Homo sapiens: one gene and its partners. The protein of the gene in region 3 purifies or fractionates together with the protein of the main gene of each other region. This does not show direct contact. Each region holds a gene or a part of one and is shown on either strand. Other genes may lie near its edges.

Evidence for each region.
Region 1: the proteins of TBC1D4 (region 3) and DDX56 purify together in Homo sapiens (co-immunoprecipitation; one large-scale study listed by IntAct). This does not show direct contact.
Region 2: the proteins of TBC1D4 (region 3) and SLX4 purify together in Homo sapiens (co-immunoprecipitation; one large-scale study listed by IntAct). This does not show direct contact.
Region 4: the proteins of TBC1D4 (region 3) and CREB3L2 purify together in Homo sapiens (co-immunoprecipitation; one large-scale study listed by IntAct). This does not show direct contact.
Region 5: the proteins of TBC1D4 (region 3) and TBC1D2 fractionate together in Homo sapiens (co-fractionation; one large-scale study listed by BioGRID). This does not show direct contact.
Region 6: the proteins of TBC1D4 (region 3) and DNAJC13 purify together in Homo sapiens (affinity purification with mass spectrometry; one large-scale study listed by BioGRID and IntAct). This does not show direct contact.
Region 7: the proteins of TBC1D4 (region 3) and PPFIBP2 purify together in Homo sapiens (co-immunoprecipitation; one large-scale study listed by IntAct). This does not show direct contact.

The regions. Positions count from the first base shown.
Region 1 is NC_000007.14:44,565,026-44,568,675, reverse strand, and holds the end of DDX56 (probable ATP-dependent RNA helicase DDX56), read left to right. Parts: intron 1-452; coding exon 453-558; intron 559-2,151; coding exon 2,152-2,228; intron 2,229-2,596; coding exon 2,597-2,674; 3' UTR 2,675-2,872; downstream 2,873-3,650. UniProt on the Homo sapiens protein: Nucleolar RNA helicase that plays a role in various biological processes including innate immunity, ribosome biogenesis or nucleolus organization. Plays an essential role in maintaining nucleolar integrity in planarian stem cells.
Region 2 is NC_000016.10:3,583,721-3,588,030, reverse strand, and holds part of SLX4 (structure-specific endonuclease subunit SLX4), read left to right. Parts: intron 1-362; exon of another isoform or gene 363-1,095; intron 1,096-3,159; coding exon 3,160-3,262; intron 3,263-4,310. UniProt on the Homo sapiens protein: Regulatory subunit that interacts with and increases the activity of different structure-specific endonucleases.
Region 3 is NC_000013.11:75,363,670-75,367,169, forward strand, and holds part of TBC1D4 (TBC1 domain family member 4), read right to left. Parts: intron 1-3,500.
Region 4 is NC_000007.14:137,877,007-137,880,657, forward strand, and holds part of CREB3L2 (cyclic AMP-responsive element-binding protein 3-like protein 2), read right to left. Parts: intron 3,546-3,651; coding exon 3,470-3,545; 3' UTR 1-3,469. UniProt on the Homo sapiens protein: Transcription factor involved in unfolded protein response (UPR).
Region 5 is NC_000009.12:98,245,269-98,249,615, forward strand, and holds part of TBC1D2 (TBC1 domain family member 2A), read right to left. Parts: intron 1-4,347. UniProt on the Homo sapiens protein: Acts as a GTPase-activating protein for RAB7A. Signal effector acting as a linker between RAC1 and RAB7A, leading to RAB7A inactivation and subsequent inhibition of cadherin degradation and reduced cell-cell adhesion.
Region 6 is NC_000003.12:132,458,627-132,462,973, reverse strand, and holds part of DNAJC13 (dnaJ homolog subfamily C member 13), read right to left. Parts: intron 2,725-4,347; coding exon 2,617-2,724; intron 1,925-2,616; coding exon 1,769-1,924; intron 508-1,768; coding exon 451-507; intron 1-450.
Region 7 is NC_000011.10:7,512,279-7,517,425, forward strand, and holds the start of PPFIBP2 (liprin-beta-2), read left to right. Parts: upstream 1-1,762; 5' UTR 1,763-1,839; coding exon of another isoform or gene 1,840-2,327; intron 2,328-5,147. Other genes in the region: leucine-rich repeat extensin-like protein 5, read right to left, coding at 932-1,762, 1,840-2,327. UniProt on the Homo sapiens protein: May regulate the disassembly of focal adhesions. Did not bind receptor-like tyrosine phosphatases type 2A.

The DNA of each region.
Region 1 (3,650 bases), on a different chromosome or scaffold from region 3:
GTGTCCTTTCATCCGAAATTCCACTTCTGGAACTTAATCCTGGTCACGCTTGTGAATGTGCACAGTCAAGCATGTGCCTGCATTCATCCATCCATGGCATTATCATGGAACCAAAAGATGGAAACAGCCTGGGGCCACCATAGGGGGCTTGCTAGGTAAACTCAGGTGCATTCAGAGCCGAAGGTTACATGGGAAGGAATGAGGTTGGTTGCGTGTCCATATGGAACAGTCTGTAAGATGATGCCCAGCAAAAAGGGGTACAGGGTACTGCCATGTGTGTCATGGAGAAGGGAAAATGGAAACATCCACTCCCGGGAGGTTCTGAGAAATGCACAGAAGCAGCTGCCTCATGCCTTTTGAAACACATGAGTGTGTTATCCTTTGAAAAGCTAGGTCTGTGAAGTCACAGAAGAAAGATGCTCACTCTGTGGCTCTCCCTCTTCCCCCGGCAGACATACTTTGAAGACAACCCTAGGGACCTCCAGCTGCTGCGGCATGACCTACCTTTGCACCCCGCAGTGGTGAAGCCCCACCTGGGCCATGTTCCTGACTACCTGGGTGAGTGTGGCCTGACAGGGCAGGAGGCAGCAGGCTGGGGAAGTGGCATTAATTTCTCCACTGCTGGGTCAGCCCCTGTGCTTGGTGCTGGGGATGCTCAGGCAGAATAGAACCTGGAGACCCTGGCAGCACGCGGGCATGTAAACAGGCACACCCCTGTGTTTCTAAACTTGTTTGCTTGGTCCCACGGGTTAGCTGTTGCTGTCTCCATTTTAGAGATGAGGAAATTGAGGTAGTGCAGGGTGGGTGGCAGACCCAGCATTTCAGGCCAGGTCGTCTCCAGAGCTGGGCCAAATGGCCATCCATGGGTCGAAGGGAGTGAACAGGTTTGGGAGAGAGTCACGGGCAGGAGGCAGAGAGAGCCACCTGTGCTGCAAAAGACTCAAGATTAGCAGCTGCTGAAGAGGCATCTGTGGAGTCTCTGGGTAAGAACAGTCAGCAGGGAGACAGACTCTGTAAGGCCTAAACCGACAAGGTAGCAAGAGAAGAGCCAGTGGTGGTGCGAGGGATGCAGGGGTTGGCAGGCATGAGGTCAGGACCCTGGGATTGGTTTCTGTAGTGCAGCCCAGGCTAGAGCTTTATGTGGCCATTAATACTGGGCACCTCTCCTCATCTTTGGCAGGCTCTGGGTAATGACTTCTTTCAGTGTCTCATAGGAGGTGTTTTTGGTAATGAGTATGTGTGACTTTTATGCCTAAAATGGATTGAAGGAGGAGAGTGGTGGAGAGGAGGCTGTGGGCAGCAAGTGCAGGACCCTTCCCAATGCCACAGGGTCTGCTCAGCCTGGACCTGCAGCCACCCAGCGGGTGTGGTGTTGCTGCTATGGAGGTGACAAAGGGTGGAGATGGAATGTTCCAGGGCAGGAAAAGCCTGGGCACTGGGAAAGGAAGGATCCAGAAGAGATGGGAACATGAAAATGCCAGAGAGAGCGGTGGGGGCCGGGTTCCCATGGGACAGTGAGCTGGAGGAGACCCCAGTCCAGGTCCTGGCCTGAGATGTGAGGAGGGGAGTTGGGAGGGTGGGTAGGGAGGGAGAAGGTAAGGCTAGAACTTTGGCCTCAGGAACCCAGTCTGCTCGTATAGCGGAGTCATTTGCCAAGGTGTGGCCAGGAGGTTTAGAAGGGCCAGGAGAAGGTGGAAAGGTGTCAGGATGTGGGATGTTTGACATTTGAAGGGGAGGGCCCAGGTGTGGTTGGCCTGGGGGAGTCCATGGGGTGGGCGAGGTGAAGATAGAGCCAAGATCAGGTGCAGCTGGGATGCGGGGCCCCCTGTATCGGTAGTAATGGGCCACAGGTGAAGAAACTACCTGTTGACTTTTATTTCAGCTGCATTTTCTTTCTTTAAGGATGTCTGTCTTTTTCTTTCTTGTTACATGTTTGTTGTAACAAATCTAAACAATATAGGAGAGTGATTTAAATAGTGGAAGTCTAAGGTGCTCACATTCTCCTGGCCCTGTGCAGATGTGGTAGTGAATAGATGTATGTCATAGGCTGCCAGTTGGGTCAGAATTGGAGAATTTGCTGCAGAATCAGCGGGAGGGCAGGGATGGGAGCAGTAGCGGTGAGCCCACTGCTCAGGCAAGCATCTCTTCCAGTTCCTCCTGCTCTCCGTGGCCTGGTGCGCCCTCACAAGAAGCGGAAGAAGCTGTCTTCCTCTTGTAGGAAGGCCAAGGTACGGCTCCTGGGGACTGCGGACAGCCCCAGGACTCCTCCCAACCTGCTCTTTTGTCATCACCAGAATGTGGAGGCGCCTTGCCCTAGGGAGGGGAAGAGAGGGTGCCCTAGGGAGGGGAAGAGGGGGCACCCTAGAACCGGGCCCCAAAAATCTGGTGTGGGATAGGGGTACTTTTGCAGCCGCCTGCAGGCCCTGCTTTTCTTTCCCCAGCTGCCTTTCCCCATTTCCTTATCTGCAGCACCTTCTGGTCGTGTTGGCCAGTTGCCGGCACGGCTCCCTTTGTGTCTTTCTCAGTTGGGTGGGTGGGTGGGTGGATTGTCTGTCGGCCTGATTCCCCCAACTAACCTGTGACTTTGCCTCCTTAGAGAGCAAAGTCCCAGAACCCACTGCGCAGCTTCAAGCACAAAGGAAAGAAATTCAGACCCACAGCCAAGCCCTCCTGAGGTTGTTGGGCCTCTCTGGAGCTGAGCACATTGTGGAGCACAGGCTTACACCCTTCGTGGACAGGCGAGGCTCTGGTGCTTACTGCACAGCCTGAACAGACAGTTCTGGGGCCGGCAGTGCTGGGCCCTTTAGCTCCTTGGCACTTCCAAGCTGGCATCTTGCCCCTTGACAACAGAATAAAAATTTTAGCTGCCCCAGTTTGTGCCTCCAGCATATGAAAAGGACTATTTGAATCCCCAAAACATCAGGAGTCGGGAAACTTCGGAAGACAGCTGTGCCTGGCTCTGTGGCTGCATGCAGTGCTTCACTTGGCCAGCAGAGGTCAGCTGTGCCGAGCTGCCCCAGCCATGAGAAGAGAAGCCTGCCCTTGCTGGCAGGTGGCTATGGCCGGCCCAGAGCCTTCCTGCCCAGCTCCTGCAGCCCTGCTGCCTGGGATCAGGCTGGGAGATGGGCCTTCCTGACCGCCAGCCTTCCTCTCCCCGAGCACACGCACATGTAGATTCGGGGGGAAGCTGCCTGCTCTTCCTTAGAGGAGCCGGGGCAGCTATCTGCTGGTCCCTTTCTGAACAACTGTTGATGTGTGAGCTGTGTCTGTGTGTTATGTGCATAAGCGGTGGTGTGACATACACACATGTGTACTGTCCCTTATGCCCTGGCCTGAGCTCTCCAGCTGCCTTCTCAGCCTGAAGGCTGGGCTTCTCTGCTGGCTTGGGGTCCTAGATTGCATGTCACCTGCTTACCAGGCGTCACAAGGCCATGCTGGGGGCATGAGGAGGTTGGGGCAGCAGGAGAGTGGGGAGAAACTAGGAGAGTGCCTGAGTATTTTAGAAAGAACCAAGTTTTTTCTCGGCAAAAGCTTATACAGAGACGAAGGAGTCTGTGTCTTTGGTCATGGTAGGACTGAAGCTAGCAGGACCCGAGATTTGGGGCCTCCATGATCCCTGCTCCTCTTCTGTTAACACCCAAGGATTTCCA
Region 2 (4,310 bases), on a different chromosome or scaffold from region 3:
CTGGTCCTCCCAGGTGCAGGGATGCCACCTCCCTGCTCATTTCAGTCCCCGGGGAGAGTCAGAGCCCCAGGTGTCGGCCCCCTCGGTGCTGCTGCTCCCATCCAGGCACCTCCGGGGAGGGCAAGGACAGGCCGGGCTGGGCTGAGCATGACTGGGAGAAAGGCCAGGCTGTGAGTGAGCACCTGCCTGCGGCCTGGGGGCCCATTTCCTCCCAAAATCCAGATGAATGAGGCCACTGATAGTGTCCTCGGCCCTCAGGGGCTTCAGAAACACCTGGAGAGCTTCTTATAGCACGCCCGTGGCCCAGCCTGCCCCAGAGCCTTGCTTCGGGAGGGTGACTAAGAATTTGCATTTCTAACCAGTTCCCAGGCAGTGCTGTGAGAACAGCTGCAGGAGGCTGCACAGCAGATCTGAGGTGGGCTTCAGGACGACGCTGCGGCCACAGGAAGAATCGTGCTTTTCTCAGGAGACAGAGCCTGCCGCTTTCATCGGGGGCTCAAAGGGCTCCATGGTCATAAAAGGCAGAAGAACCAAAGTCTGACTGTTTCCAATGTGTCACCAGGCTGGAGTGCAGTGGGGCTATCTCGGCTCACTGCAACCTCCACCTCTCGGGTTCAAGGGATTCTCCTGCCTCAGCCTCCCGAGTAGCTGGGATTACAGGCACCCAGCACCACGCCCAGCTAATTTTTGTATTTTTAGTAGAGTCGGGTTTCACCATGTTGATCAGGCTGGTCTTGAGCTGCTGACCTCAGGTGATCCGCCCACCTCGGCCTCCCAAAGTGCTGGGATTACAGGCGTGAGCCACCTCGCCCAGCCTATTATTTTTTAAAGTAACAGCTTTATTTAGATATAATTCACATACCATAATATCCACCCTTTTAAAATGGACAGTTCAGTGCTTCTCAGTACATTCACAGTGTTGTACAATTGTCCCCACTCTCTAATTCTAGAACATTTTCATCATCTCAAAAATCCTGTACCCATGAGCAGTCTCTCACCTTCCCCTTCCCCCAGCCCTGGCAACCAAGAACCTTTCTGTCTCTATGGATTTGCCTGTCCTGGACATTTCATATAAACAGAGCCATATATAACTAATATGTGGCCTTTTGTGTCTGTGTCTGGCTTCTTTCAGTTAGCATACAGTTTTCAAGATTCATACATGTTGTAGCATGGATCAGTATTTTATTCCTTTTTATTCTTTTTTTTTTTTTTTGAGACGGAGCCTCTCTCTGTTGCCCAGGCTAGAGTGCAGTGGCACGATCTCGGCTCACTGCAACCTCCACCTCCTGGGTCCAAGCGATTCTCCCGCCTCAGCCTCCCGAGTAGCTGGGATTACAAGCGCCCATCGCCATGCCATGCCCGGCTAATTTTTTTGTATTTTTAGTACAGATGGGGTTTCACCATGTTGGCCAAGCTGGTCTCGAACTCCTAACCTCAAGTGATCCACCCACTTTGGTCTCCCACAGTGCTGGGATTACAAGCCTGAGCCACTGTGCCTGGCCTGTTTTTGAGTCAGGGGTCTTGCTCTGTCACCCAGGCTGAAGTGCAGTGGCGCAATTACAGCTCATTGTAGCCTCGACCTCCCAGGCTCAAGTGATCCTCCCACCTCAACCTCCTGAGTAGCTGGGACTACAGGCAGCTGCCACCATGCCCAGCTAATTTTTTTTTTTTAGTAGAGACTGGGTCTTGCTATGTTGCCCTGGCTTTGGGCATACATTCCTTTGTATGTCTAATACCCCACTGATGGTATGCCACATTTTGCTTATCCATTCATCTACTAGTGGACACACGGGTTGTTTTTAATTTGTGGTTATTAATAATGCCACTTAGGAATATTGATGTGCAAGTTTTCGTGTAGACATGTTTTCCTTCTTCTTGGTTCTGTACTTAGGAGTGGAATTGCTGGGTCATATGGCAACTGTGTTTAGCATTGTGAGGAACTGCGAGACTGTTTTCCAAAGTGACTGCACCATTTTAAATCTCCACCAACACTTGTTATTCTGTTTTTGTTGTTGTTGTTATTGTTTTGAGACAAGGTCTTGCTCTGTCGCCCAGGCTGGAGTGCAGTGGCGTGTTCATGGCTTGCTGCAGCCTCAACCTTCCTGGCTCAGGTGATCCTCCCACCTCAGCCTCCCGAGTAGCTGGAACCAGCCACAAACAGCTGCCCACATTGGTGACTTGGGCCACCACACCCTGCTAACTTTTTTTGTATTTTTTTTTTTTTTTTTTTGTAGAGATAGGGTTCTGCCATTTTGCCCAAACCCTCTGTGTTTTTTGTTATGGCCATCCTAGTGGGCGTGCAGTGGTATCTCACTGTGGTTTTGACTTGCATTTCCCTGATGACTAATGATGTCGGGCACCTTTTCATGTGCTTATTGGCCATTTGTAGATCTTCTCTGGAGAAATGTCTGTTCACATCCTTTGCCCTTTTTTTTTTTTTTTTTTGAGACAGAGTCTTGCTCTGTCGCCCAGGCTGGAGTGCAGTGGTGTGATCTCGGCTCACTGCAAGCTCCGCCTCCCAGGTTCACGCCATTCTCCTGCCTCAGCCTCCCAAGCAGCTGGGACTACAGGCGCCCGCCACCACGCCCAGCTAATTTTTTGTATTTTTAATAGAGACGGGGTTTCACCGTGTTAGCCAGGATGGTCTCGATCTCCTGACCTCGTGATCCGCCCACCTCGGCCTCCCAAAGTGCTGGGATTACAGGCGTGAGCCACCGCGCCCGGCCCCTTTGCCCATTTTTTAACTGGGTTTTTTTAAATTGATGAATTATTTTTAAAAAGCAAAACTGATGTCTAAGCCTGTTTGAAGAGTATCAGTGTGGCCCATTGTCTCAAGTTGTCACTGTGGGTCAGATATTTTTAAGTTTACATGCATAAGTTTTAGTCACGTGCCGGGCTGTTGGGTTCAGTGGCCCCAGGAGCTCTGTTCACCCGGCACCCGTGTTATACAAGGTGTGGTCCTCAGTGCGTGTCACCGATGCTATCATTGGGAAGCCCCTGCTCCAGACAGGGAAGGGGTGACCACTGTTGCTTTCATGGAGCAAAACGATGCTTGGGTTATCTTCAAGTGCATTATTCCTCTTGGTCACGCTACTGGGATCAGATGTGGGAAATCCGTGTCCCTCATGCTAAAACGTGTGCTTCTTTTGTTTTACCCAGAAGGTGCTAATCGGAAGAAGAACTTGCCCCCCAAAGTGCCCATAACGCCGATGCCACAGTATTCCATTATGGAGACGCCGGTGCTGAAGAAGGAACTGGATAGGTTGGCGGTCTTCAAAGCTTGTTGCCCACAGTGGTCTTTTCCCTCCCATAAGTAACTGGGTTTCACACACCTGGGGGCGGAAGGGCCCCCCGTGTGGTCTCTGGGTCTGGTGGATGCAGCTGGCCTGGGCTTGGGAAGAAAGGTCTGCAGTCAGCTCCTTAGGGAGCATGTGTGACTGCTGGGTGCCGGGGTGAGCCTCCCAGTTCTCTCTGCGTACCATTCCCCAGGGAGGCAACACACAGGATTCGTGCATGTCACCCCTGGGCAGCAGGTCCCCATATTCCATGTAGATGGAAATGGCCCCCTAGCCAGAGCAGTCTGAGTGAGGAGGTCTGATTTTTTTTTTGAAAGACAGAGTCTTGCTCTGTCGCCCAGGCTGGAGTGCAGTGGCGCAGTCCCGGCTCACTGCAACCTCCACCTCCCGGGTTCAAGCGATTCTCCTGACTCAGCCTCCCGAGTAGCTGGGACTACAGGCACACGCCACCACACCAGGCTAATTGTTGTATTTTTAGTAGAGACGGGGTTTCACCATGTTGGCCAGGCTGGTCTCGAACTCCTGACCACGTGATCCACCCGCCTCGGCTTCCCAAAATGCTGGGATTACAGGCGTGAGCCACTGTGCCCGGCGGAGGCCTGATTTTTTTTAAAAGAACATTTAACTCTCACATCCACATGACACTGCTCTTCCACTCGGGCACCCGGGGAAGCTGCTGCTGCCACCATCCCTCAGAACTGGGAGCAGCATATCTTTTGTTTATTTTTTATTTTTGGAGACAGGATCTCACTCTGTTGCCCAGGCTGGAGTAGAGTGATGTGATCTTGGCTCACTGTAGCCTCAGCCTCCCGGGCTTAAGCGATCCTACCTCATCCTCCCTAGTAGCTGGGACTACAGGTGACACCACCACGCCTGGCTAATTTTTGTATTTTTTGTAGAGGCGGGGTCTTGCTATGTTGCCCAGGCTGGCCTTGAACTCCTGAGCTCAAACTGTCCTCCTGCCTCAGCCTCCCAAAGTGCTGGGATTGTAGGCGTGAGCCATTGTGCCTGGCT
Region 3 (3,500 bases):
ACCCTGGGGACATGTCATCAGGACTTCCTGGGGCTGTGTCACAGGTGCGCATCCTCAACCTTGGCAAAATACACTTTCTAAATTAACTGAGACCTGTCTCAGATTTTCTGGTTCACAACTCTAAAACTGAGAACAATCCAAACGTCCATCAGCAAGTGAAGAGATAAATAAAATGTGGTACATTCTATAAACCAAAAAGTATCTGAGACAGGTCTCAATCAGTTTAAAAGTTTATTTTGCCAAGGTTAAGGGCATGACCATGACACAGCCTCAGGAGGTTCTGAGAACATGTGCCCAAGGTGGTTGGGCTACAGCTTGGTTTTCTACATGTTAGGGAGACATGAGACATCAATCAGTATATGTAAGATGTACATTGGTTCGATCCACAAAGGTGGGAGAACTCAAAGGGGCAGGGTGGGGAGTGTGCATGGTGGGGGCGGTGCAGTTCCAGATCGTAGGTGGATTCAAAGATTTCCTGATTGGCAATTGGTTCCTAGAGTTTATCTCCTACTAAATTCCCTTCTACTCAGCTCCAGCCACAATGGCCTCCTTGCTATTTCTCCAACATACAAGGCACATTCCTCCCACAAGGTCTCTGAGTTCAGAGATGTTAACAGTTTATTGCCACATCCATTTAATATTTTCGGACCACAGATGACCACAGGTGACTGAAACTGTGGATAAGGAGGGGCTGTTGTAATTATTTGGGATATACTGCTAGAACATTCATAGTTTACAAATAACAAGAATTTCCGCTTGCTAGACCAAGTATTTCCTATGAAAGGATAAAATCCACATGCTATAGCTTCAGTGACTCACCCTGAACACTTGCCATGTCTCAGGGACAAAGTCAGGTATCTGTGCTAACATGTGACTAGCAACCTCAACCCTTCATCATTTTCTTACTGCCTTAGTATGTGATTTACCTTACCTGGCAAGGGCCAAAGCTATGGAGAGTGAGCTAGCTGACACTCAACCGTGCAAACCTGCAAAAAATAAAATGATTCTAGTGGGCAAAGCCCTAGGAGAATGATCTCTTCTTTCTCTCTACTTTTCATCTGATTACTAAATATTTTTAATCTGATTTTTAACCCAAAATCTTTTTGTCTGATTTCCACTAAATACTTTTCATCTAATTTTTAACCCAAGTATGCCTCCAAAAGTGTCTCTACAGAGTACGGAATCAGAAATATAGCCTGTAGCACTGATTTTACTGCAGATATTTTATCTTGTTACAAATATTTAAATGATTTACATACAACCTCAGAGTTCCATTCTACAATTGAGATTGCACATAAAGTCAATTCAACCTTAATTGTGTCAAGTCTTTTGAATTTCTCTACCGCCATATCAAGAGTTTTTACATGAAAAACTGATTTGTGGCTGAATTTCTGTAGTCTCCCAGGATCCTTCCCTGTGACTACAGGTAAAAACTCAACACCTAAATGTAATTCTGTAAGTGATCCAATTTATATAAGCAAAGTTTATCATCTTGAATTCTAAACTGAGTACATAATTTAATCTTTAATAATTTAAGATGCTAATATTACAACACAAAACTGGTTCTAGTTACCTTTACTACCTTTTCTCAGGTTATGACTAACCACAACTTGAATGACATGGGTTGCAGAGACTCTGCAAAACTAATCTAACAACAGCTCTGTTTTTTTTTTTTTTGCTTATCCTCATGTGAAACACAGAGTATAAACACTAGCATTATACAGCCCCTGACTACTCACTTAGGCCACACCAGAAGGGGCACACTGCTCATATAAGCACAGTAAAATATCCATAGCGGGGAAATGAGTGATCAGAGAATCATGAAAATCTTGTATTGAAGCATTTACTTAAGGGATTCATCAGAAACAATGCAAGAGAAATAAAATTTCTATCAAGTACTTGTACATACATACAATATTTTGGAATCATAGGATTCTCCTGTAGCATAGTGTTAACTGACATATATTTATACATACATTTACAAATATTGTTGAACGAATTTGAATCCTTCTTATATGTGTTGTATCTTTTCAATATCTCTTTCTCCTGTACCATCGTACCATAAGCTCTTAAGTGAAAGACTGAGTTGGGGGGATTTTGTTGCTTACTAGAATTCCTCCCTGTGGCCACTAGGAAAATGGTCTGGGCTCAGAAGAACTTGAATGAATGCTGACAGCAAACAGAGTCATATATATAGGAGTGAAAAACTACCTAGAACTCTGATATAAATTCTTCAGGACTGAGACAGTTTAGTAAATTCCCGTTGGTGACTCAAGAGATCTGTCACACCCAAAAATAGAAAGCAGTGGCTTCTCACTCTGCTCACCATTCACCCAAACTAGGAAGTGACGGTATGTTTCCAGAATGACTCTAAATGTTATAGAGCACCTCAAGCTACACACCCTAGCTACATATTGTAGCTACAAATAATTCCGCTGCTCAGAATCTGCCTACAACCCACAGAGCCTAATGACGATTTACACACACCAATTTAAGGCAAGATTTCTACTCAGTGGCAGCATTTAATCTATTAACACAAAACAATGATACTGAAAGAGGCTCAACCAAACTAGGGACTGACAGGTTTATATTCTATCCCCAATATTTTGCTCAAGACCTCTGGGAATAGTTGTTGCACCTCTGCCAGATAACTTCCTCAAGAGCAAAGTGAATGGGGGAACTTGATAGATGGTTGATAAGGTCTCATCGAGATCCACATTCTGTGAGTTAATTTTTGGATTAATGCCAATATAAAGGCAGGATAATGTACAATCAAGAGAGGGAAAAATCACCTTTATGATTAAACCTGAAGTAGTGTGCAAGTTGTTAAAATGATCCATTTCCATTAACACACAGGAATCAATTCAACAGAAATAAGGGTCTCATTATATTTAGAAAAAGCACAGTGCCACCTTTAGCTAGTATTTTGTTGTTACACCTTCAGTGACCTCACTAAAACAATTTAGAATCAAGTACCAAGACTCAGACATTAAAGCAATTCCTCACTCTAGACAAAAAAAAAAAAATATTGCTTCTAGATTCCTTGATGTCATGCTGTTCTTTCTCATTAATTGGTTATCATAGTTACTTAACATACTTCAAAAAACCCATTAACATTTTATAAACTACATTTTACCTGATTTCAAAATAAAACAAATTCTACAACTACCAAACACTGATGTTCAAAGACCTGAACAAACACAGGAGAAAATCTGGAGAGTGAAAAAGCACTAAGGAAAGATACCTTTGATCAGGAAGCCAGCTGGAAACTGGAGGTGGTCACGAAGAGCAATGATTTTGCCAAACTGGTGTAGTCCTCAGTATTAGCTCTAAGTTCTCTCTTTCTAAATAAGCTGGCGGTATTTTCATTGTATTTATTAAAGTCCACGTTATCACTATGCAGCCAATTATAAAACTTCCCAGGAGTAACCATTATTGCTTCAAAAGTTAAGTATTTCCTGACTCTGCAATCAGGAAATACACAGATTGTTTGGGACTAA
Region 4 (3,651 bases), on a different chromosome or scaffold from region 3:
CTGGGTCTGAGGACATGGGAGGGAGGAGCCATAAAATGCTGGAGAACAATTTTAAAAAACACTTATGAAAAAATGCTGGACACTTGACTCACTGCCAGAACAAAGAAGAGCCAATTCAACATCCCAACTTTACGGGCACGTAAGATTCACAAGCTGAACCAAGAGATTTAGGAAGAAAAAAAAAAACATGGTAATTATAAGGGGTCTGTGAATAAGTTAAACTAAAAGCTGCTTTCACAATCTACAAATTAGGCCTCCAAATCAAAATCATTTATATTAACCAAAAGGTTATCTAATTTTGCCCATATTGGTGTCAAATCTCATCCCCACTCCCTGCCAAAAAAGAGCAACCTAGTTCAGCTGTCGGATTTTTATATAACACTCTCTTTATGTGAGCTAGACTCCAGAGTCCTCACACTTCACAGAAATTCTTTCTTAAAACTGGCACTGCAGCCTTTCATTTACAATATCCCTTTTTAAGTGCAAAGTCGAGGGCTGTGAAAAGAACCACGGTGGGGGGTCTGGGTTACTCAGGTCTTATCCAGTGAAAAATTAGTTCTCTGAATCTTTGCAAAACATCTCCTTCACTGGTGCAATCTAAGAAAGGGAAATGGGAAACTTGTTTACATGATGAAAAATATAATTAAGAGATTGACTCTTTATGGCTTATGGCCGCTCTGACAGACTCGTATTTCTCAAAACTTACATTCAGAAGACACTGTCTGCCACTATTTGAAATCTTTAGAGCTAATCATAAGTTAATGACTAGTCTAAGAGGCCACTTGGTGGGGAAAACAAATCCACTGATATTCTGGTCTTAATCCCTGAACAGAAAATGTGCACACATCCATTAACTATTTGGAACCAATCTGGTGCTATACAACTCTTCTGTGTCCTCTTGACCCCATTTTGTCCTCCTAAAGGGACAACTGTTAGTTCCTTTAACCCACTCAAGCAAGGAGTGGAGGGCAGAGGTTTATCTAAAAGAGCAGTGATGTTGGTTCTTGGAGCCCCCTTAAAAGGGCCATCTGAGCTCTCTGCCTAACGTCCCATTGTCTACATAGATTCCGTTTTGGAAGGATGGTTTCCCAGAGAAAGAGTCCTGCTGTTTGGAGGTCGAGAGAGAGTGACGTCAAGCAAGCGTAGTAAGGGAGAAAATAAAATCCTCAAAGCACTAAGGACAGGGGCTAGAAGTTTCCTTTATCTTCTCCCTCCTCATTTAGAAGAGCACGTTTCCTACTCTACGTCTGGGAGCCTTGAAAACCCAGTCTGGTTCAGTTGCAGCAGGTACATGGGTTGGCTCATTCTCTCACTTCTGCCCCTAAATTTGAAACCTTTCCTTCCTCATTGCCCAAATGCTACTTGAGTAAATCTTATCTTTTTGCCTTCTTTGGGCCCTATAGGCTGCCTATGCCTGATAATGACCTGACAGTTTAAAAGAGAGGGATGGGTCAGTGGAGGCCCATGGTTACCAGACACCAGCCAGGCCCAACAGGATCTGGGCTGCAGACAGTGGAGCAGAGAGAAGCAGAAGCAGAACCTACTAGCAACCCTCCTCCTGCACAGCTCAGACAGTCTCCGCCCTGGCTAATGGGAGGGACAACAAGAACCCTCCAGACAACAGGGCTGCCAGGACTACGGGGGCCCGATCCAGCTTCCACTCACAGTGAGAAGATGAACTTGGCCGCTTTCCAGGCTGGAACCGTCTCCAGCATAGCAGAGAGAGGGGAATCACTCACAGGGAGCCCCAAATGGGCCTAGACAGACAAGGCAGGGACCGACTTATGAGGTATGACGACAAATGTTAATAACATCAAATCCTGTACCTGATATGGAATGGAAGCCAGGGTGTGGGCTTAATCCCTCTAAGTACAGGCTCCAATAACAATGCAGATGACGTGTGTGGGGGTGGGTGGTGGGGGGAGAGAGAGAAGGAGAGACAGAGAGAGAGAGGGAGAGAGAGAAGCCAAAACCAAAGGCATTTCAGCTGCTAATAAAAATAAAATACAAACTCTATGCACATTTCCTACACAAAATCTTTCCCAAGCTCGGAAAAAACACTTGAGGGTTTTCTACATTACACAATAAAAAGGCAATTTCCACTTCTTATTTATATGAAAGAGGAAAGATTTTTTTAAACTACAAAAGTTACTTTTAACCATAAAAAAAAAACAAAAAAACTAAAAGTAGGTTGGGGATTAGGTTGTATCTCTTTGGGCGAGCTGCAAAGTAGCCAAACCTGACTACCAAAGGTAAGAATGTGGATACACAAATGTCACCTACCCCACCCTGCTTTGTTGAGGTAGGGGACGAGGAGGACAAAGTGGAAGTGTGGAGGGAGGAGGGGGCCAGGCAGGTGTGGAAAGCCAGCAAGGTTGTCTGAAATGTCTGTTGTCAGAACAGGGCTTCCCCTTCTCTGTCATGAAAACAGGATAGAAAAAGCTTGTGGCCAGGGAGCCCGGGGCCTGAGTGAGGCATTGTGTCATCTCTCGCTCTGAGCTCATCCTAGAGGCAGACACATACATGCTCAAAGGAACTTCTTTTTCAATGGTAATTATTCCAGTTAAAAGAAAAAACAAAGGAAAGGAAACAAAACATTGTCTGGAAAGACACGGGATCCCAGAGCCTAGGGTGCCCTCCTAGCTCTGAAGGCTCGCAGAAAACTTGGCTAGCTTGAAAGGAGGCATCGATCTCTTCAGTGTGGTTGCTAGCAGGAAGCCTCGGCAAGCTAATAAATACTATTTACAACTGGGGAGGAGAAGCTGGGGAGGCAGAACTATGGATGTGTGGGGAACCAGGTTGTGGGAGGTCCTAAAAGCGACAAGATGGGGCAGGTTTGCCTGGAGTAGAAAAGCCTGATCCCCTCAGGCATTGCACTTGCGGCCTGAGAATATGAACGAGAGCCCTCGCCTGCCAGTGCTGCTGCAGGAGACGAGACGATCCAGCGAGGGCTCCCAGGGGGCAGAGTGGGCGGAGGGCTGCTGTCGGGGGTGTTCACACCAGAGACCCCAGTGCGAGCAACGGAGGACACGGGTCAGTGCTTTGCCAAATACCAACAGGCATTATGGCATTTTTGTGGCCAGAGTCTGGGGTCTTGACTGAACAAGAGCCATCTCGTCTCCAAAGCGGGGGGTTACACCTCACAGGTGCACATTAGGCAATATCTTTTTGGCACTATTGGTGGAAACAAGCCTGCTTGTCCCACCTCCAACCCCTAAAATAATTTCCTATGGCAGTAAGAGAAAGGAAGGGAGGGATGCAGGCTCCCTTCTGCACAGGAGGGGCATGGACCAGGGGGAGATGCTCTCTCACTGCAGGGAAGTCCCAGGCTGGTCTCCAATCTGAAGCCACTAATGCTTGCCCATGTCTCCATGAAGATCCAGTGGCAAAGAGGAAAAGCTGATGACAAAGGTGGTTTGGGGATGTAAAAGTAGAGTTAAGGGAAAGGGAGGGGGTGCAGGCAGCCTCTTTAGAAAGTGGTGTTCACTCTTCTGTCGAGTTCTACAACTTTTAGTGTTTCATTCCCCTCCAGTTTGGCGCTGACCCTGTGAAGGCATTAAAAGGAAAACGAAGTATTAGTCACCAGCTGTTAGCTACAATTCTCATGCTTTGTAGCGTGATGCAATCATTCAGGGGTTGCAACTTGGTGAG
Region 5 (4,347 bases), on a different chromosome or scaffold from region 3:
ACAAACAAAAAATTGGAAGGCTGGATGTTGTGGCTCACACCTGTAATCCCGCCACTTTGGGAGGCTGAGCTGGGTGGGTCACTTGAGCTGAAAGTTTGAGACCACCTGAGCAGCATGGCAAAACCCCATCTCTACAAAAAACAGAAAAATTAGCTGAGTGTGGTGGTGCGTGCCTATAGTCCCAGCTACTTGGGAGGCTGAGGTGGGTGGATCACTTGAGCCCAGGAGGTGGAGGTTGCAGTGAGCGGAGATGGTGCCACTGCATTCCAGCCTGGGCAACAGAGTAAGACCCCGCCTCAAAAGAAAAAAAAAATTGGGGTTATAGTGTAATCTCAATTGTACAGAAAAAGTCTCAAAGAAATATACTCCGCAATCTTAACAGTGGTTTGAGCTGCGTGATGGGATTTGCAGTGAGCAGGCTATTCTCATTGTATTTTACTGTTTTTTTTCCAAATTTTCTACAATAAACATGGGTTACTTTATAAACAGAAAAAGAATATGTATTTATCAAAAATAGATGTTTATACAGAGATTTTAAAAACACACGCAAATATTAGGGTCACACTACTGAGTATCAAAAAACAAAGTAGGACATTTTATATTATTATATGATCTGAAATGTGTTTAAATAAAAGGCAGGCAGGAGGTCATAACATAAGGTTAATACTGGCTGCCTCTGGGTGATAGGATTACAGGTTCTTTTTCTTTTTAGTCTTCCAAATGTTCTGTTTAAACAATGATTCTTCTACAGTGAGTGACTTGAAAATGTTTAATGTTAAGCAAGCTTTCAAGGCCAAGGAAATTATGTGAAGTATAAGAGAGGGGAGGTGAAATATTTAGAAATTAACTTTGAGTGTTAGAAAAAGGAGAAAAGAGCCAGGACCACTTATGGGTTGGTATGAGCTTGATTAGACAGCCCCTGAGACCTACCAGGGCAGCAGACACTTTCCACTTGGAGCCCTCTTACTGGGAGACTGAAACATTTAGGAGCGGAGATTTGTTTTTGCACTATATCTGCAAAAAGGGTGTGGGTATAAAAATATTAAATATAATGATGGGGGTCAGGGGGAGCTGTTCAACCTACCTAAGAAAAGAAACTTAGCAGTAGTTCAAACAACAGACAGTGTATTTGTAAATTCCTAACAGGCTCCATCAGATCTGGCAGGTAGGCCAGCACTCACACTCCTCAAATGCGAGATCTTTGAGGCCCTCCCTTCCATGAATCCTCTCACCAAACACAGACTGGGTGTTTACCCTGAGGCTTGTGAGTGGGGCTGGAGAAAGTGAGAAGAATAAAAGCAGAAACTCAAAGCCTAAGGAGCAGGGAAGGGGAAAAAGTGCACACCTGGGGTCAGGTGCTGGGGTAGGGGCAGTTCTGGGAGGTGGAGACAGAGTCTTTCCAACCCAGGTCAGGGGAAACTTCCTGGAGGAGGGGCACTGCAGCTGGGCCTTAAGGACTGGGGTTGATTTGAATCTGCAGGAGGAACCAGGAAAGATCTTCCTATGCCAAGCATACAGGCAACAGTAAGGGGTTTCAGACCCAGAGCTGAGTTTGCGGGGAGGAAGCTGGGAAGATGGGGTGGGGAAGGCCAAACAGAAAGGGGTGTGGGTAAGTGGTTGGATCTCATCACGATGGAAACCAGAGCTCCTAGGGGTTTGAGCAGGAGGCTGAAGAACCAAACCTGGCTTTGGGTAGAAGATCTGTAGCTGGGCCCTGTTTCCATGGGGAGGGTGTTGCGACCTGGTTGCAAATCAGTAAAAAAAAAAAAAAATCAAGGGCCGGGCGCAGTGGCTCATGCCTGTAATCCCAGCACTTTGGGAGGCCAAGGCAGGCAGATCACCTGAGGTCAGGAGTTCAAGATCAGCCTGGCCAACGTGGGGAAACCCATCTCTACTAAAAATACAAAAACAAACTGGGCGTGGTGACGTGTGCCTGTAGTCCCAGCTACTTGGGAGGCTGAGGCAGGAGAATCGCTCGAACCTGGGAGGCGGAGGTTGCAGTGAGCCGAGATCACACCACTGCATTCCAGCAGCCTGTGTGACAGGGCGAGACTCCGTCTCAAAAAAAAAAAACAAAAACAAACACAAACAAACAAAAAAAAAAACAAGAAGGATACTCTCTACCTTGTCTCCTTCAGAGTTAATGTATACAAAAATGTTTAAAAAGCCGTAAAGCTGGGCTGGGCACGATGGCTCACGCCTGTAATCCCAGCACTTTGGGAGGCGGAGGTGGGTGGAGCACGAGGTCAGGAGATTGAGACCATCCCAGGTAACACAGTGAAACTCCGTCTCTAATAAAAATACAAAAAAATTAGCCAGGCGTGGTGGCACGCACCTATAGTCCCAGCTACTTGGGAGGCTGAGGCAGGAGAATCATTTGAACCCAGGAGACGGAGGTTGCAGTGAGCCAAGATCGCGCCACTGTACTCCAGCCTGGGTGACAGAGCGAGACTCCGTCTCAAAAAAAAAAAAAAAAAAAAAAGCCATAAAGCCCCATATTGTGGACTCACATCTTTCAAAGTAACCTTTAAGCCAGACTCTGAACTGATTCGAAAAAAATAAAATTTTTTTATTTATCAATATTTTAACCATCTTATTCTCCTTCATTCAAAGCAAACCAAAAAAACTTAACAGTTTCTCTAAGATTTTGATATCTTAGCAGTACTTCCCTAACTGCTAATATCTGTTTTCTTGTAAGTGCCACCTGTGGGCCTAGATCAACTCTGAGACTACACAGAGCCAAGTCCTGGGGGTTGTCATCACTGGTAGGTTTTACCAATGAGGAAATAGCCACTCAGAGAGGTTGAGTTTTGTGGCCAAAGTCAAAGCTAGCAGGTGACACCGTTATAGACTCAAACACGTCCCTACTTTTGCTTTTCCCATTAAACAATGTGGCTTATCAGAGCAGCCTTTCTAACAAGCAGATCATCTAAGACAGGAGGGGCTGCCCATGAAGGCACAAGCTCCCAATGCAAAGGAGTGTGCAAGGCACGGGCGGCACAGGATGGCGATGCCCCAACAGAGACCAGCACTTCCCACAGGAGGCAGAATCAATGACCTGAGGCTGCAGTCTGGGGCACCCTGGAGAAATGCCCTCCATGAGTGACCACACAGAGGATTTTCAGCAGCATTTATTTGTAATTCTCCTTTTACGTGAGCTCTGAGGGTTGCCCCACCACCAGTGGGAAGAAGGCGCTGCCTAGACAAAAAAAGGGCCTGACCCAGGAGGTCACTGCCTCCCTAGAGGGCCCTGGACGAGTGCCTGGCTGCCCCTTAGCTTTGGGAGGGCAGGTTATGAGTCTGCAGCCTAGGGTTTGAATTTCAGCACTGATGTTTTCTTACTACATGACCTAGGACAGGTCTCTTGACCTCTTTGAGCCTTAGTTTCCTGGTCTATAAAATGGAAATAGCACTAACTACTCTATAAAATTATTGTGAGGATTAAATAAGATGACGCATGTAAAGTGTTGGGGCAGCAGGCATATTTCATGACAGTACACATTTATACAGGTCCTTTGTAAACTGTAGCTTACTGTGGCAACTTGCTATTCTTATTATTATAAGTCTCGTGGGTTCCCTTTGATCTTTCTTGGCTCTGCGGAGACCGTTGTTTAGGTAAAGCATAAAATAAAGTTGTAAATCCTTAAAAGCAGGAGAGAACATGCCTTGCAGATTGCTCAAGAGCAGTGACGAGACACTTTTTACCAGAAGTCTCTGACTCAAAGTCAGACATGGGTCAGGAGGTTTTCAACGACATGGGAGCGGGCCGCTGCTTCCTCAGGAAGGGTGGAGGCGGGCGAGGTGGGGCAGCCTGCTCCACGTGGCTAATCCAGGCCTTGCTGACTTGCCCAAGACACCAGAAACATCTTTCTAGGTGGGCTGGGAAGGTTTTGCCAGGCCCTGGGTCTGGGAGGAGAGTGCAGGCTTGCTGCAAGGCGAGGAAAGGTTTCAAGAGGAGAAGCTCACGTCCCTGCTTCCTGAGTCTCAGGCAGCATCCTCCTCAGGAGACTAGAACCCAGGTCATCACAGCAACTCCACCCCTTTCTCCAATGCCCACAGCAGGGGCTGGCCTGGAAGAGGCCCGCCGTGTGTGCTGAAGCAAAGCCGCACAATTAAAGAACCTGCAACAGGTTCCCCACAGCAGAAGAGGTCTGAGGATCCCAGAGCCGTTCTTCCACAATCTGCTTCTTCAAATTTCAGTTAAGACACAGGAATTCTATTATTGCAGAGGTTTCTGCTGGCCTCTAGTCTGATGCTGATCTTTGCAGCAGCATCAACCCAGGCTGCAGTTTTCTGCAAAACCAGGGTTGTCTGGCTCCCTGGCAGATGGGGAGTGGGGGCTGGAGC
Region 6 (4,347 bases), on a different chromosome or scaffold from region 3:
GATCATGCTCCAATCTCTAGAGCTCAATTACAAATATGCTTTATCAAGAACTTTTTGTTGCCTTTCTTACTTGGTATCATTTTGGTATGAACTAACTCCATCAATAGATTTCTATACAAGCTCAGTATCTCAAGACTTCAACACTGTCAACATTATCCTTCCAAAAAAGAGCAACAGATAGAATGCTAACTTTTAAGTAAGTAAAATAAACAAATAATGCAGTAACAGATTTATTTGCTCTACAACTTCACTATGAAATTAAAACTTTTATTATTGAGGATTATTTCTGTAACAAGTTTAAAACTAATTTATAATAAAGATTTAAAATTACTTTTCTTACCCAGAGAAATGTTTATTTCCCAAAAAGACTGAAAGGCAATATTGTCAACTTCAATTAAAACAGCCTATCAACATTCAAGTAAGGTTAAAATTTCAAAATTGTTCTCTCACCTCTATTATTGCCTTCATAACCAACCCAGCTCCTTTTATTATTGCCATGGAAGGATGCTTTAAAGTGAGGGGGAAAAAGTATCAAAAAATAAAAAAGAATTTTATTCCAACACATTTAGCTGTTACTCTTAAGAAGGGTATACATTTTTACACAAGGTATAAGCCACAAAATTAGTAAAGGATACATCTCAAAGTCAGTTTGGTTAAATATTTTAGGTATTTTTACAATATAGCCTTAGAGATACAGACACATAAACAAAGAATTTACATTAGTAGGAAACAGAAGGCATCTATTTGAATAATTATAATTATTTGAATGATACATATCAATGATACTAAAATAATAAAAATATAAACATCATATATACATACATGTATCTAATAAGTACTATAGTACTGTATAAAATAACAAATGTTTTCCAGTGTTTATGAAGAGCCCTGCTAAAGCTCATTTTATCATTTGGGAATTTGTAAAGAAAAGGGAACTTTGGGCCTACCACAGAAAAATGAGTTTTTCACTACTAAAATGGAGGCCAGGTGTGGTGGGTCATGTTTGTAATCCCAGCACTTTGGGAGGCTGAGGCAGGAGGATCGCTTAAGCTCAGGGGCATGAGAACAGCCTGGGCAACAAAGGGAGACCCCGTCTCTACAAAACAAATAAATAAATTAGCCGGGTTTGGTAGCATGTGCCTGTGGTCCCAGCTACTCAGCAACTGAGGTGGGAAGATTACTTGAGCCTGGGAGGCTGAGGCTGCAGTGAGCTGTGATTGCATCACCGCACTCCAGTCTGGGCAACAGAACAAGACCTTCACCTCAAAAAATAAATAAAATAAAATAAAATAAAAAAGCAAGATATAGAAAATGGGCAGAGTGTCAAAACAGCAGTGAACACCCATCAATGGGACTCTACATGAAACACCAAGAAATCTGTACACTCAAAATGTACCAATATGATAATGTACTAGGTGCATTTATTCGTCAATATTATAGATCAAGCTTGTCCAACCCGCAGCCTACATGGATGCTTATATTTATTCAAAGCTAACCCAGGATGGCTTTGAGTGTAGCCCAACACAAATCTTAAACTTTCTTAAAAACATTTTTGCAATTTTTTTTTCTTTTAGGTCATCAGATATTGTTAGTGTTAGTGTATTTTATGTGTGGCCCAAGACAACTCTTCTTTCAGTGTGGCCCAGGAAAGCCAAACGACTGGACACCTCTGCTATAGAAGTATGCAAATGTTATCTTAGAAACAGTGATCCTAAAAGCGGTTCCCTTAAATTCACTGTTATCTGACAAGAAAAATACAAGCTCTCACCTGAAAAAGTTTAAAAAGGGTTCTTCCATTGGATGCTACCATCTCCAAGAGCATATCAAACTGCTGCCCTTCAGTTGTCTCACTATATGGAGCACAGAGGGCAAAGGTAAGGAAGTCCAAGAGCGAACTAATAACTAGGGCACCAGTCCCATGATCCTGAAACAATGCAACAGATTCTCTTAAAGACTTAAGAGATGGGGACCTTCAGTTAAATTTTAACAATAATGTGTTCCTTTCTGTTATTCTATATGTCAGACATCAACATTGACTTTAATTTCTCAACATGAGGTTCAAAGTTGGATGACTCTTTAGTACTTGCTTTTGCTCATATAGTGAATCCATTATCCATCATACCTCAAAAGGAACAATTAAAATTCAAATTTCAAGAGTATAACCAAGACTTCTCAAATGTGTATAACAAAGGTTAATATTTGCAAAAAATAATATTTGACAATATTTGCAAAACTCTGGCAATCTGCTTATGTTCCTTCAAGATGCTATAGAATGCCCATCTCCAAAATTGTTATCAGGGACTGAGGAACAAAGATTTGGCTTAATTTTTTTTAGAGCAGTTTATTTCCTAATGATATTTTTAAAGAAAGAAAAAACAAAAATTTGGAGTATCCCTGTGAAAATCTAAAGGCTTTGACATCTATCCTTCCCAGGTGAATGGATATAGTCCTAAGACAAAATATTTTATTATCAGTGACCAAGCTGAACTGTGACCAATACTGACCAAAGCTGGGGGCTACAATAAAAAAAAAAAAAATCATCCACGTGGCACTTCTAGAATATCTTTCAATAATGGTATGGTATCTACCATGAAGACAAATTTAATTATAACTTACCACATGGGAATTAAATTTCTCCAGTAAGTTTTCCAGAAACTTCTTTGACGAGAGAAGAGAAGCTTTGTTCAACTGTTCTTGTCTTAAGTCATAGTCATCATGCATGGGCTATTGATGAAAAAAAAAAAACAGTGATAATTCATAAGCAGTCCCATGTGCTAGCATCACGCAAAAGTCATTTATAAACAGTATTCATTACACATTGAAAGAATTAAAAACCATTGCCTTTAAAGTGTAAGGCAAAAAGGAAACTCGTGATAAGCAGGCAGAAGTGACGATTTACCATGATTTTGATCAGACTTCACAGATAATTTGCCCAACAATTAACTCAACATATACAAAAGGTACTCTCTCAAAAGTCACAGATCTTATTAAAAGGCAAACATTTGCCCACCCAGAATTTTATAACTAAAATTTGAAATAAAACTTAGCATTTAAATGTACTAAAATTAACAACAAATACTTGTCTCAGGGTGATTTTCTTTTGAGTGTATAAAACATTCCAGCGTGATGGTTAGGAGTAGAGCTCCAATCCTAATTTTACTACTGACAATAACTGGGAGACGTTACGCAAGGTAAGTTACTTTACATAAGTCTCTAAGTTTCATTTTCCTCAGCTGTAAAGTAGGAGTAATAGTATTTATGTAACATTACTATGATGCTTAGATGAGATAATTCATGTAAGATACAAAGCCAACACCTAATATGTAATGAGGGCTCAATGTTTGTTTCATAGCATTGTTTCTTACTTTTTTTTATTGTGGTAAACTACATATAACAAAAGTTACCATCTTAACCATTTTAAATTACACTGTTCAGTGGCATTAAGCATTCACATTGTTGGGCAACCATCACCACCACCCATCGCTAGAACTTTTTTCATTTTCCCAAACTGAAACTCTGTAATCATTAAACAATAATTCCCCATTCTGCCTTCCTCCCAAGCCCCTGGCAACCACCATTCTACTTTCTGTGAATTTGACCTCATATAATTAAAATCATACAATATTTATCCTTTTGTGACTGACTTCTTTCACTAGCATCATGTTCTCAAGGTTCATCCATGTTGCAAAACGTGTCAGAATTTCCTTCCTTTTTGTTTCTGCTCATTTAGCAAATACTGTATGTTACTATGGTTAATTGTATAAACTTTGGAGCCAGAAAGTGGGCTTGAAGCCTCCTCTGCCATTTACTAGCTACATGACCTTGAACAAGTTACTTGGGCCTTAAGTCCTTCTCTACAAAATAGATATAACAGTAATAACTTCTAAAGTTCATTGGAAGACTGAATAATATATGAAAAATTCATAGAATAGTACCTGAAACACAGAAAAAAATTAATCATTATTTATTAAACAGCTTGACAAGGCCTGTTAAGGATAAAAATTAAAATTAAACATGAATATTATCCTCAGGAAGCTGACAGATTGAGAAAAATACATCATGTTTAGAAATAGCAATAATTCAAAGAAGAAATTGCTAAGAAAGACAAGTGTAATATTTATGAAGGGTAATCTCACTTCAGGGAGGGATACATCACTACCACCTTCAGGAATAAGAAAGCTCCATTTATTTTTAAAATTTTATTTTAATTGTTGTGGGTACATAGTAGGTGTGTATATTTGGTAAGCTTCATTTAAAAGCTGACTTGAGCTCTTAATGAATAAGCAGGGAAAGAATTCTGAGCAGGGAGAATACATGAAATATTAAAAAATATATACATTGGTCTCC
Region 7 (5,147 bases), on a different chromosome or scaffold from region 3:
CTTGTTGGATTTAAGTGAAGACTGACATCGACATGGCCTACATCAGTGGTTCTTAAACTTTGTTGCACATAAGAATCACCTGCGGAGTTTTAACAGTCCTCATGCCGTGGCCATATCCCCAAGACCATTAAATCAGAACCTCTGGGGATGGATCGAGATATCAGTATTTTTAAAGTTCCTTCCCGCAAGTTGGTTCCAAAGTGCAAAGAAGCTCCAGAGCCGGTGACTTAGAACATTTAAAAAGGTAACTGTATCAATTTAAGAACAGGCTAGCAGTTTCTGGGGGCGGAGGTAAGGGGAGTGGCTCCGCTAGGGCAATAAAGGGTGGGATTCGGAAACAGCCATGACCTTGTGTGAACTGTGGCAGCCTGCGTCTACAAAAGTCGCTCTGCTGCTATTTTAAGGAAGTGAAAGAGAACTGAAGGGTGTCCTGTTGTAACACAACTCTTGCGGGCCCCAGCCTTCCCCTGCTGGCTGTGCTTTGGTCTGCTGCTGGCCAGGTTCCCGCAGTGACCACACGTCTCATATTTGCCAGGGTGGGTTAGGTTCTGTTCACATGTAAAATTCTCCTGGGCCTACTGGTCATTTCAGACCGCGAGGGTAAATTTGGTTTGAAAAAGTTGTGTCCTGTGGAGTTTGTCGACACTCCAGCCTGTAGAGAACTAAAGGCTAGGGCTGTGGTGACTCCTGCCAGAGCTGGGGACTATGCCGAGTCCCTGGTGTCGCTGCCATCTGAGGCCTACAGGGATTTTAAACAGCTTAACAGCAGCCAGTCCTTGGAGGCCTGGGCAGGGCCACAACATAGCAGTACAACCAAAACGGGTTCAGGCCACACGCTGGAGGTAGGGGCTGGACCAGATCTCCAGCTTCAGTCCTCCCCAGTTCGAGAACCCATTCCTGTGGTCAGACATTGCCAACGCTTTTCTTGGACCTAAGGTCCCAGACCTTGGCGCTGGGCACAGGGAAATGCTTCCTGACCTCGGCTCTTCATAAGACAGAACTTTTGTTTGGTGCCAACCACTAGAGGGACCTCCACCCCAGGTTGCGAGTGCAGCGCGGCGGGACCTGGGATGATTCGGGGGCTTTCCGACCTGCTTAGGGAGGGCGGCTCAGAGACAACCTCAATTTTGCCTGGATTGCACGCGGGCCGAGGAAGTCGGGATGCTCCGAAGGGTTTCTGCTCTGGGAGTGCCTCTAATGTGGGTTTTCTATGCTTTCTCTCTTCGCAATTCTCGACACCGTTTCCTTCTTCCTCGCTTTCATTCCCTGTGACCGGAGAACGGCGCTGAAGGACTGGAGAAGCCCAGGAGACTGGGAGCCGGAGCGCCGGGTACCCACCCGGGCCTCCCCGCAACCGGAGCTGTGCGGAGGAGGAGGCGCGGCGAACGGGGCGGGGCTCCCGGAAGGGGGCGCGGTCCGCCGAGAGAGGCGGGGCTGGGGCCCGGACGCGCGGCCCAGGGGGTGGGGACGAGGCAGGTTCGAAGGGGCGGGGCTGACCAGGCCGGTCCCCCGGGAACAGGAACCCTGGTGGACGGGTCCCAGCAGGCTTCTTCGGTGCCCGAGAGGGAGCGGGTGCCCAAGGGGGTGGTCCCTGTGGCAGGTCCCGGGGTGGGGGCGCGGCGCTCCGGGAAGAGCCTTCCGCAGGTCCCCGCCCCGTCACGTGGGCGCCGGCCCCGGCCGCTGCGGTCGGTCCGCTGGTTGGTCGGGCGCTTGGTCCGGCAGTTGGTCGGTGGGCCAGTGGCCCGTCGCTCGCTTCTGGGCTCTCATGTTTGAAGGTGGGAGGGACACGGGAGCGGCCCGCACACCTGAGCCGCCCGGAGAGGAGCCTCGGCCCCGTACCCAGGTCAGTGGGCTCTCCCCACACCCCGGGCTTGCCGCGCGGTCGGGGTTGGGATCCCCGTCGGGAGCATTACCTAGGGAGTGGAGCGCCCCCAGAGCTACGAACCACGGGGACGTGTGGGTCAGTGTCTCTGTGAGCCCCGGAGCGTGTCCCAGGCTCGAGGACGGGGACCCTTCTCCAACTCCACTGGCCAGAAGCCTGGGAGGAGGGCAGAACTCCTGTGGGTTGGCTGCGAATCTCCACCCAACCCTGCCTGGGATCCGCGGACAGTCCGCACTCCTGCAGGTGCCAGCGTGGCCCTGGAGATGCGCAGGGAGGTGGGGTCCCTGAGTTCTGTGCGGCGCGTCCCAGCCCTGCTCAGCCCGGGGAGCAGCGGCGTGGACTAGGGAGCCTAAGGAGGTTGCGGAAGCTTTAGGTCTGTCAGCCCAGGCAATTCTCTGGTGGACACAGCGTGTGTCTAGATGCAGGGCCTCGGCTAAAGCCAGTTCTGTAGTGTAAGTGCAAAAATACAGCACACTTTTTAAAATCTAAAGCCGCCGCGTCCCAGTAGACTGCAGGATGGGGACGGTCCTATTTAAAAGTGGGCTCCCTCCTCACCTCATCACATCAGATTCCAGACCCGCAGTTTTTCCTCGGATGAAAATAAGATTATGTAACAAGAGAACAGAACTTCCAGCGTTTGGATAGGATTAAGACAGGCATTCTTGCCAGTGTTTAATCTTCTTAAAAAACGAATCTAATTATATTTTTACTTTTAGAGCAGCCAGATATTTGGTATAGATCCGTGTCCCTTTTCTATATTTTGGTCTACTTCCTGTCTTTCTCTTCGTCTCTCTCCTTTCTCAACCCCTCCTTAATTGATTGTAATACAAATCTGAAGTGTTTTCAAATTTGTAGTGTATTATGTGAAGTTAAATGGTCAACTACAGAAAAGTAGTTGGTTTTCGACATAATTCATCTTCAGCATATTCAGTCTTTCATTATTATAGGTGTATGGAAAGCTGTAAGTGTTATCTAATTTAGAAATTATTTCTCTTTGGCTTAAGAGAGGCAACCCATTTGTACTTTGCTTAAATTCATAGCTAAATAAATTTGAAGTGGGAGATGGGGATGATTGATGAGGTTTTCACTGATTGCATTTATCCATGTTTTATTTAACATATTTCAATTATTAGTAATACTATTTTAAGATTTGGTGATGTGACAGTTGTTAGCTTATTGCTACTGGAGAGATAAGCTGCTTACCATGATGCCTTCTTTACTGGGTAGCTAAGGGAGATGCGCTTTGACTTTAAAAGAGTAAGTGGAATGAGATCAATGACATGAAGGCGGTAGGAACAAAGTTATGGGAATTCCTGTCTTTCATCTGAGCAGGGAAATCTGGGATAATTTTAAGAAAGGGTGATGTGATGGACCTCAAAGGATCCCTCCTGGGGTTTTTGAGGCAGAGAAGGGTAGAGTGTGGCCTGGGCTGTGACAACTGTGTGGGCAGGCAGGCATGGACTCACCATGAGAAGTGGCCAGTGGTCCAGCTTGGCTCTTATGTCAAGTGCTAGTCAGGAAAGCTGGTGACAAGGCTGGAAAATAGTCCCAGCTGTCCAGTACAGAAGTCTGGACTTGGTCTGAAGGCACAGCAGGGGACTGACTGATGGTTCTGTGAACTTCTCAAAGTCAAAGACCTTGGTCCTTGACCCTCCCAATTCCTAGCCTGATACAGAGAAAATCCAGTAAATATTTGTGGAGTGCATGGTCTGACAACACTGTAGAGCAGAGCTTCTCAAAGTTGAGAATCCTGTGGGGATCTTGTTCAAATGCAAATTATGATTCCATAGGTCAGGGGTGGGACTTGACATTCTGTGTTTCTAACAGATTCCCAGGAGCTTGCTGATCATTTCCCTATGTGTAGCAAGGATTTAGAGTAGCAGTTTGCAAACCTGGCTATGCCTCATAATCGCCTGGGGAGTTTTGTAAAACGTTCAGATTAAGTAGTCTGGGATGTTTTTACCAAGTTCCCCCAGGTGATTCTGTTGACAAACCCGAAGGCAACTGCTGCAATGGCAAAGTTCTGGGAGTGTGGTGGGAAGCAAACTCCAAGGGAAAAAGACAGTGGGGGCGGCGAGGCCGGATAGGAAACCGGGAGGCTGATCCAGGGTCAAAGGGATGAGGCCTTATTTTGGGCCTGAGAGAGTGATGAGGTGGGGACAGGTAGGGAGACTTCGGAGAGATAGAATCTGTAGGACAGAGGACTAGGGAATGGGACAGTCTCTAGACTGATTAGATGCAATGAGAAGTGAGGAGGGAGAAACAATGCTGGGAAGATTCAGCTTTGGGCCTGAGGAATGGTATGGCCTTTAGACTGTAATGTTTAAGGTAAAGTTTATGAAAGGTTCTTGTATTGGTTCGAACCCCGAGAGCCTGCCAACAGACAACATGAGGCGGTGTGGGGCAACGTGCTGTTTTAACGAGCGCCTGGGTGCAGGTGGGCTGAGGCCTAAAATGGCGTCAGCACCAAGTGAGGACGAGGCAGGGGTTTTATAGTTTCCTGTAAACAAGAAGTGTCTCAGTCTGATGTAACTTCTGCACAGTACCCAGACGGCCCCTCTCTCTGTCTTCAAGGGGTACGTGTCTTCCAGCCAGGGTAGGTGTCTTCTGGCCGGCTGTCTTCCTGCTTCTGCTGTCTTGCTGATGCACACTGCTGGCGCAACTGGCCTTGCACCTTGGGACTGGGCCTGAGAAGGGAGGAGTTACTCATCTCTTCAAGCTTTCAGACCCCGGGGAGAATCTTTCATTCCTGTCTATTTGGTTATAGTAAAAAGGGAAAAGGGGTGACTTTCTCAATAACTACTTCAGGCGTGACTTAGGGGTGGTGTGGGCTCCTTGGAAAAAGAAAAACTTAATTTTTAGGGTATTCTTGAGAGATGTGTTGGTATCCATCGTGTCGTTGTAGCAGGAGCATAGTCTGAATTGTCTGGTGGCTAACTGTAGTTTCAATAAGAGTTTTAGTGGCTTTTATTATTAGTGGGATAACACAGGGGAGAAAAAGTGATGAAGATTACTGTCCCTACCAGGGTTTTAAATCCTCCTAAATTAGAGAACTGTTGTCCGGCTGCTAGAGTGAGAGCTCGAGTGAGGGTGATGAGTTCAGCTTTTTGGGAGGTGGTGCCTGGGAGGAGCAGATTGGCTTCAATAGTGTGGGGTCTTTAAGGGTAATGTGGACAGGGGTGTGGTGTTTTGCAACTGAGGGTGTGGAAATATCCCTAACAGCGGGGTTAACTACAGATAGGGGTAAGGAAAGGTTGCATGTTTT